2 linked regions of the Homo sapiens genome follow. The protein of the gene in region 2 purifies or fractionates together with the protein of the main gene of each other region. This does not show direct contact. Each region holds a gene or a part of one and is shown on either strand. Other genes may lie near its edges. The genes, in order: NLRP4 and SH3BP1.

Region 1 (3,813 bases), on a different chromosome or scaffold from region 2:
TTATTTTTGCACCTGATGAAGTGCATTCATTTTGTAGAACACACACCAAATATCATCTTCGCCATGAAATTGCCCCTCAGGTCCCGACCTAATTCCGGCTCTCTCAGTCCTCTACCTATATGCCACTGGAGAACTCTTTGCAACATATTAAATCCATGCCACAGAAGTCAGGGTGCTGATTTGTTTACATGAACGTCTCGACAAGAATCTGAAGCAAGTATTTTTTAAACCTTCACATGCCCAGGCACAGACACTACAGCCTTCCTCAATTCCAGATGCCCCATTCTCAGCAGTGCATGCCCTTGAAAAGACGGCTTGGTCTTCAAAGAAACAGCAAAAAGCCTACCACAGTGAATCCAGGCAGCAGTCCGGATGTTTCAAGGCCTCGCAGAGAGTTTTCAGTCCTTCGTCCTTCAGGACATTGGCACTGAGGTCTAGATAGCGCACGCTCTTGTTACGCAGAAGCATTTCAGAGATGTATTCGCAGCACTGCTCGCTGAGGTGGCAGAAAGCCAACCTATGGGGACAAAAACACGAGAAGGAGAGTGAAGAGGGACGTGGTGTCTCAGGGAGATTTGCTTAATTTCACATTCAGGGTAATATTTCTATAATCTTACAAACTCCCCAGCTGAGATGAAGTTCTGGATTATCTGAAAACACCTCCTCTCATTTATTCTTTTGAGATGGAGTTTTGCTGTCGTCGCCCGGGCTGGAATGCAACGGCGCGATCTTGGCTCACTGCAACCTCCACCTCCCAGGTTCAAGTGATTCTCTTGCCTTAGCCTCCCAAGTAGCTGAGATTACAGGCACCCACAACCACATCTCGCTAATTTTTGCATTTTTAGTAGAGACGGGGTTTCACCATGTTAGCCAGGCTAGTCTCGAACTCCGGACCTCAGGTGATCTGCCCACCTCGGCCTCCCAAAGTGCTGGGATTACAAGGCGTGAGCCACCGCGTCCGGCCCTCTCATTTCTTCTTAGTTGCATGATAGAAGAATTAGAAAATAAGAGGGTAATGCAGAAGGAAAAAGTATCGTGTAATATGGCATAGCTAATACTCTAACAGGGCTTTAATTTTGGTTCTAATTCTTCATCTGATGATGTCCTTGGACAAGACATGGACCTTCTGAGACCGCTCCCTCAGGGACTGGTAAAGTGTATTGATTACCTCATGTGTAGAATCCCCAACTTTTTCAATTTCATTATTCTTTAAAATCACAGTAGGTTCAAAACTTTTTTTTTTTTGGAGACAGGGTATGGCTCTGTCACCTAGGCTGGAGTGCAGTGGCATGATCACAGCTCACTGCAGCCTCTACCTCCCTGGCTCAAGGGATCCTCCCACCTCAGCACCTCAGTCTTCTGAGTAGCTGAGACTACAGGTGCGTGCCACCACACCAAGCTAATTTTTGTATTTTTTTGTCAAGAAAGGGTTTCATCATGGTGCCCAGGCTGGTCTTGAACTCCTGGGCTCAAACAATTCACCTGCCTTGACGTCCCAAAGTGTTGGGAATATAGGTGTGAGCCTCCAATCCCAGCCAGTTTATGAATTTTTTTTTTTTAAGGATCCATGTTGACTTTGAAAAAAAAGTGTGGAGTAGAGAAAAACAAAAAAGCAGACGGTGCAAGCTAGTGATGAACGAACCACATATGGCCTACGGATATTTAGATTTCCTGGCATTTTTATGTTTAACAAAATCAGTTGGCAATATATAACCATCAGTAAAATTGTATGTAAAATCTAGATTTCAACCTCTGTTGAAAACTGGGATATCTGGCAATAATGAGCCGCATTCCCACATGGAAATCCAACAGGCTAGGACAGAACGGGCAACTGCTTCCTGTTGACAGACACAAGATCTGCATTTCCACGGAGGCCTCACCCAGCTTGCTTCTCTCACGGATCTCAATTTTCTGGCATATCCAGGCATTTGTGGACTTTGTTGTTTTTTGTTTTTTTTTTGGTTTATTTTTTGTTTTTTTTTGAGACAGTCTTGCTCTTTCACCCAGGCTGAAGTGTGGTGGTGCGATCTCGGCTCACTGCAACCTCTGCCTCCCAGGTTCAAGCGATTCTCCAGCCTCAGCTTCCCTCGAGAGTAGCTGGGACTACAGGTATGCACCACCAAACCCAGCTAATTTTTGTATTTTGTATTTTTAGTAGAGACGGGGTTTCACCAACTCACAGAGTCTACCAACTTCCATCTGGGTTCCCCTTCCTGAACTGCATCCTGAAATCTCTCTCCAGATAGTTACCTGGGACAATTCTAGGACTCACCTGTTTGTCCCTTATCACTCAGGCACCACTGTCCTTCATTGCCTGATGTCTGAAGTCTTAAACAGTTGTTTTATTTAGTTGGTTATTTTTGGTTGTTTTAGGTGGGAGGTTAAGTCCTGTCCCTGTCCCTCTATTTTAGCTCGAGGTATAAATCCTCTCATTTTCTTGACATTTTCAGAATACTCTTACTTTCATGTTGTTCATATTTCAAAATGCCCAAAAGTATAAAGAGGGAAAAATCTCCATCCTCCCCTATCTCCCAGCTTCTCAGTTCTATTTCTCACAGGCAGCCTATATTATAATACTATTTCTTCCAGTGATATTTGTGTATTTAAAAAATAGACACACTCGAGACCAGCCTGACCAACGTGGAGAAACCCCATCTCTACTAAAAATACAAAATTAGCCAGGCATGGTGGCGCATGCCTGTAATCTCAGCTACTTGGGAGACTGAGGCAGGGGAATTGCTTGAACCCAGGAGGCAGAGGTTGCGATAAGCCAAGATCATGCCACTGCACTCTAGCCTGGGCAACAAGAGCAAAACTCAAAACTCAAAAAAAAAAAAAAAGACACAAATGCATATATATTCTCCTGTCCTCTCCCCTTTTGTATAAGTATCACCTAAAGGTATTAGAATTCCATTAATAGGTAAATCAATTGGCCTTTAACACTTACTCATCTGTCTTCCTTCTGTGTTTTACGTACCCTAAAACTGGCTTGAATAGCCTCTTCTCATCCTATTACTGCAAGAACATCACATGTATTATAGTATTAACTGGGGTCAAGAGGCCCATAGACATTTTTCCCCGCTACTGTCCTGAGTACCCACCAAGTCTATTCTACATGCTCGAAATAACCGTTATCAACACGGGAAGTACCATGTGTGTTGCAGGTGCATTAACCCAACCTAACAGCTTTGAAACACAGTACGTGTTCTGTATAGACAGTCTCACTTGATAGCCATAAGACCTCTAAGACAGGATTTTCCTCTGCTTCTAAGTTAAATATTTTGCTTAAGAAGACAGTATATACGTGATAAATCCTGAACTAGAACTCAAGTCTTTTCTGATTCTTAAGCGTGAGCTTTTAAACCTCCGCTATGTGGCCTCCATCAATGAGCAGACTGTCATCAATAGGCCCAGGTTTGAACTGCCGCCATGGCCCTCCACAGTAGGCACCCCCAACATCCACTCACATCAGGTATACCAGGACCGTGTCTGGGCTGCACAGGGCTTCACACAAAAGGGGCACGCCTGTGTCTAACTGGTTGCAGGATACATTCAGATACGTCAGCTTCTTGTTGTTGGTTAGAAGGCCAGCAAGGACTTCACAATCAATGGGTGAGAGGTGACAATTTACCAGCCTGCAGGAAAGGGAAAATGTCACATTCTGTTGGTTTCTAGTTCCTGGACTCATTCCTCTTGCCAATCCTGTCAGAGTCGGGAAGCCCACATTTGCTGTCCTTGAGAGGCTCACTGCCTCCCAACCCTGTTCTTGATCCCTGTCAACCCAGTCTCTGGGGTACAGAGACAGCCAACCTG
Region 2 (3,813 bases):
ATCCTGTCTCAAAAAAAAAAAAAGGGTCGGGCGCAGTGGCTCATGCCTGCAACCCCAGCACTTTGGGAGGCTGAGGCAGGTGGATCACCTGAGGTTAGGAGTTCAGGACTAGCCTGGCCAACATAATCTCATCTCTACTAAAAAATACAAAAATTAGCTGGGCGTGGTGGTGCATGCCTGTAGTCCCAGCTACTTGTGAAGTTGAGGCAGGAGAATCGCTTGAACCCAGGAGACAGAGGCTGCAGTGAGCCGAGATCACGCCACTGCACTCCAGCCTGGGTAACAGAGCAACACTCCATATCTCAAAAAAAAAAAAAAAAAAAAAAGTGTAAGGGAGAAAGGAGGCCCCAGCACAGCAGGATTGCTGAGCAGCGCAGAACTGTTTTGGGGTATCTGCCACCACTAGGGTCTATCTTCAGGACAGGGGGGCAATGTATTCACAGCAGATCCAGCCAGTGTGTGGCAGTGGAGCCCCTGGTTTGAGAAGTCACCTTCTCAAATGACTCTGGGCATGGTTACCTCTCTACCTCTGTCTCCCTCTTGTGAAATTGTGAAATGGAGCCTGGAATGCAAAGGCTTCTAGTACAGCGCTTGGCCCACGCGAGCATTGACACGGGGGAGGTAGTGTGGATGCCGCAGGAGGCAGTCATGTCTTCTCCCAGGGAGCTGGGCTCGAATGAGGGAATTACAGGCACCCGGAAAGGGCAGCAAGTGGGCGGTTTGGGACAGAATGAGGGCCCCAGTGCTCCTTCCCCACCTGCCCCAGGGGACCCCACCTCTTCCTTCATGCCCTCAGAAAGCAGCATCATGACGCAGGCCTCGATGGGCAGGGCAATCTCCCGGCCCAGCTCTTGCAGGTGGGTTGCCAGCGACACCCCATACACCCTGGGGAAGTGGGTGGCTGTCATCGAAGGGGAGTGGTCTGCAGGGATGAAACAGATCAGCGGCCCAGGGCCTTCCCACCCCGAGCAGTCAGGCAGGGGCACCCCCCCTTCATGTCCTCAAGGTGGTACCACCTGCCACTGACTGTCCAGGCACACATCTGAAATCATCCGTCACATCTCTCGAATCAGCCCGCCTCCACTGCCTCTGTCCTAGTCCAGGCCACCGTTGCCTCCTTCTGCCTCACAGGCCTGGCTCTAGTCCTGCCCGCTTCACTCCACCCTCCACACAGTAGCCAGAGCTGCCTCTCCATCACAGATTGAGCCTAGCTCTCAGAACCCATCCACAGCTTCCTGCTACCTTTCAGGATGAAGTGCGAGCTTCTCAATAAGCCCCGAGCAGGGCAGGGTCAGGGGTGTGGTATCGCCGGGCCTATGTCCCCACCTGCTTGGCCGTGGTTCTCCCTCAGCTCAGCCAGGGCTGTGTCCAGCGAGCTCAGTGACCTGCGATGGTAATCGGCCTGAATCTCCAGGAGCTGTGGGGATGAAGGGACACCCTGAGCGGAAGTGGGGGAAGCTGAGCCTTCTATAGGGTCCTTGAGAGCAGACGCCCCCTCCACCATCTTAGAGCCCCAGTGGCCCCTGGCTCTGGCATTCAGCCCCTGAACTCTGGATGGCTGGGGCCCGGTCTTGGACTCACACGAATGAAGTAGTTGGCATAGGAGTCCTCCTTGGTAACAAAGTGGTACAGGTCAGCCAAGTACTCGTCCTTGGGGACAGAGAGGGGAGAGCTTACGTTGGGTGAGGCTGTGGGGTCTAGAGGGGAAGAGGAGGCTTGGAAGGGTTGGTGACCTCCCCCAGGCCACACAACTGCAGGTGGAAGGTCCCAGCCAGGCTCCTCTCTCTGCCAAGGTTGGTGCTTGGGGCCAGCCCCTGGGAACTCCCTCAAACTTTTCTGGCTTCTCGTCCCCATCTCTGTGTCTCCATAGACTTAGCACAGTGCCTTGTTTTTTGTTTTGTTTCGTTTGAGACGGAGTCTCACACTGTTGCCCGGGCTGGAGTGCAGTGGTGCAATCTTGGCTCACTGCAACCTCCGCCTCCTGGGCTCAAGCGATTCTCCTGCCTCAGCCTCCTGAGTAGCTGGGATTACAGGCGCCCGCCACTACGCCCAGCTAAGTTTTTGTATTTTTAGTAGAGACAGGGTTTCACCATGTTGGCCAGGCTGGTCTTGAACTCCTGACCTCATGATTCGCCTGCCTCGGCCTCCCCAAGTGCTGGGATTACAGGCGTAAGCCACCGCGCCTGGCCTTGCACAGTGACCTGTTATTCACCATTCAGTCATTCTTTCATTCACTCTTCATTTATTCATTCACTCGCTCGCTCAGCAAACAAACACATGGAGACTCAGGGAACAGACCAAGTCTCTGCCTTCCCAAGTTATGCATGGGGTACAGACAGAAGAGGCTACGAGGGAATGGCGGAGCTCTGCTGGCTCCTAGCCACGTGGCCTTAGGCAAGTCATGTCACCTCTCTGAACTTCAGCTTCCTTGCCTGTGAGATGGGCCAGGACCCACCCCTGCCACCCCTACATATCCAGGGGACCCCCATGGCCCTCACCCTGCATTGCTCCACTTTCCTCTTCAGCTCCTCCTCCTCCTCCTTCAGCGTCTCCACCTTGTTGGCCATGGTCGTATGGCTGTGACTACCCGGGCTGCCTCCTAGGCCTTGACTGCTGCCTGAATTCTTGGTTGCCTGACTGAGCCTGGAGATGATCCCAAGGTGAGCTGGTCACCTGCCCTGTTGCATGTCCAGAGCCAAGTGTCCCCTCCATACAGCAGACCACATGGGATTCTAGGATTTAGAGCTGCAGATCTGAGAGCTCCACTGGCCGGGGCCTCTGCCCAGGCTGGGCCATGAGTGCTCTGGGTTGCCCCCTGGTGGCAGATTTGGTGATCACAGCCACTCCACAGAGGGGAGAACAGGGCTGCCGCAGGACTGTTTACAGGATCCCAGGCTTTAGGGTTGCCCCAGCACCAGCTGTGACACACGCGGGCACACCCTCACAGATACGCTAACCACCTGTGCTCCTAGGGACCAGGCGTGCACAAGTACACACACTGTACTCAGCAGACCCCACAGCATCCTCCTGGTGTGGCCAGGGCCTCAAAGCTCTATGACCATCTCTGTGGGCTGACCCAGATATGAGCCCCCTGAGCGGCTGGGGCTCCCACCTGCTCTTGAGTGTGTTCCAGTCGGACACGAGCTTCTGGAGGCTTTTCTTGTGTTTGAGGATGGCTGGCAGCTCCTCCTGGGGATGGGCATGGGGGGGTCAGTGTGCTGGGGGAGGAGGGAGCCAGAAGCTGGGGAAGCTGGGGGCTGAAAGCAGGGCACAGGCTCACCTCACTCAGCCTGCTGAGTGGCTGCAGGACGTCCCTCTCCAGGGTCATCTCAAACTCGGCCAGGATGCGGGCCAGCTGATTCTGGATGGCACAGCTCATCTCCAAGGCCTTCCTGTGGACACGGCACCCCATGGGTCCAGGCGCCCGCTGCCCTCACCTCCACTGGAAACACTTGGTGGGGCCTCTCCTCCCTCACTTCCGGCCCCTCCTAGATATCCTTCATCTCTGCTAAGCTGAACACCCTCCCAGGCCTGGCCACCCTCACTGACCTGGGAACTGTCCCCAGCCTGGTCATTCTTCTGATGTGGATGCCCTCACCACCTGGACCCCCTCCCAGCTGAGATCACGTCTTGGTATCCCCAGGTGAGGGCTGGGCCCCGTCTGTGCTCACCCCATGCTGGAATCAGGGTCCAGCTCCTTGAAGCTCTCAGCCATCGTGGTGGACAGAGCCATGAGGGGAAGCTTCTTCTGCAGGGAGGGTGGGGCCGGCGATGAGTGTCCGTGCCTCCCTCCACCCTGCCTGAGCACCAGGC

Evidence for each region.
Region 1: the proteins of SH3BP1 (region 2) and NLRP4 fractionate together in Homo sapiens (co-fractionation; one large-scale study listed by BioGRID). This does not show direct contact.

Annotation. Positions count from the first base shown.
Region 1 is NC_000019.10:55,867,531-55,871,343, reverse strand, and holds part of NLRP4 (NACHT, LRR and PYD domains-containing protein 4), read right to left. Parts: intron 3,636-3,813; coding exon 3,468-3,635; intron 518-3,467; coding exon 347-517; intron 1-346.
Region 2 is NC_000022.11:37,642,474-37,646,286, reverse strand, and holds part of SH3BP1 (SH3 domain-binding protein 1), read right to left. Parts: exon of another isoform or gene 3,749-3,813; coding exon 3,672-3,748; exon of another isoform or gene 3,393-3,671; coding exon 3,281-3,392; intron 3,190-3,280; coding exon 3,113-3,189; intron 2,661-3,112; exon of another isoform or gene 2,644-2,660; coding exon 2,499-2,643; intron 1,651-2,498; coding exon 1,582-1,650; intron 1,418-1,581; coding exon 1,327-1,417; intron 923-1,326; coding exon 777-922; intron 1-776. UniProt on the Homo sapiens protein: GTPase activating protein (GAP) which specifically converts GTP-bound Rho-type GTPases including RAC1 and CDC42 in their inactive GDP-bound form.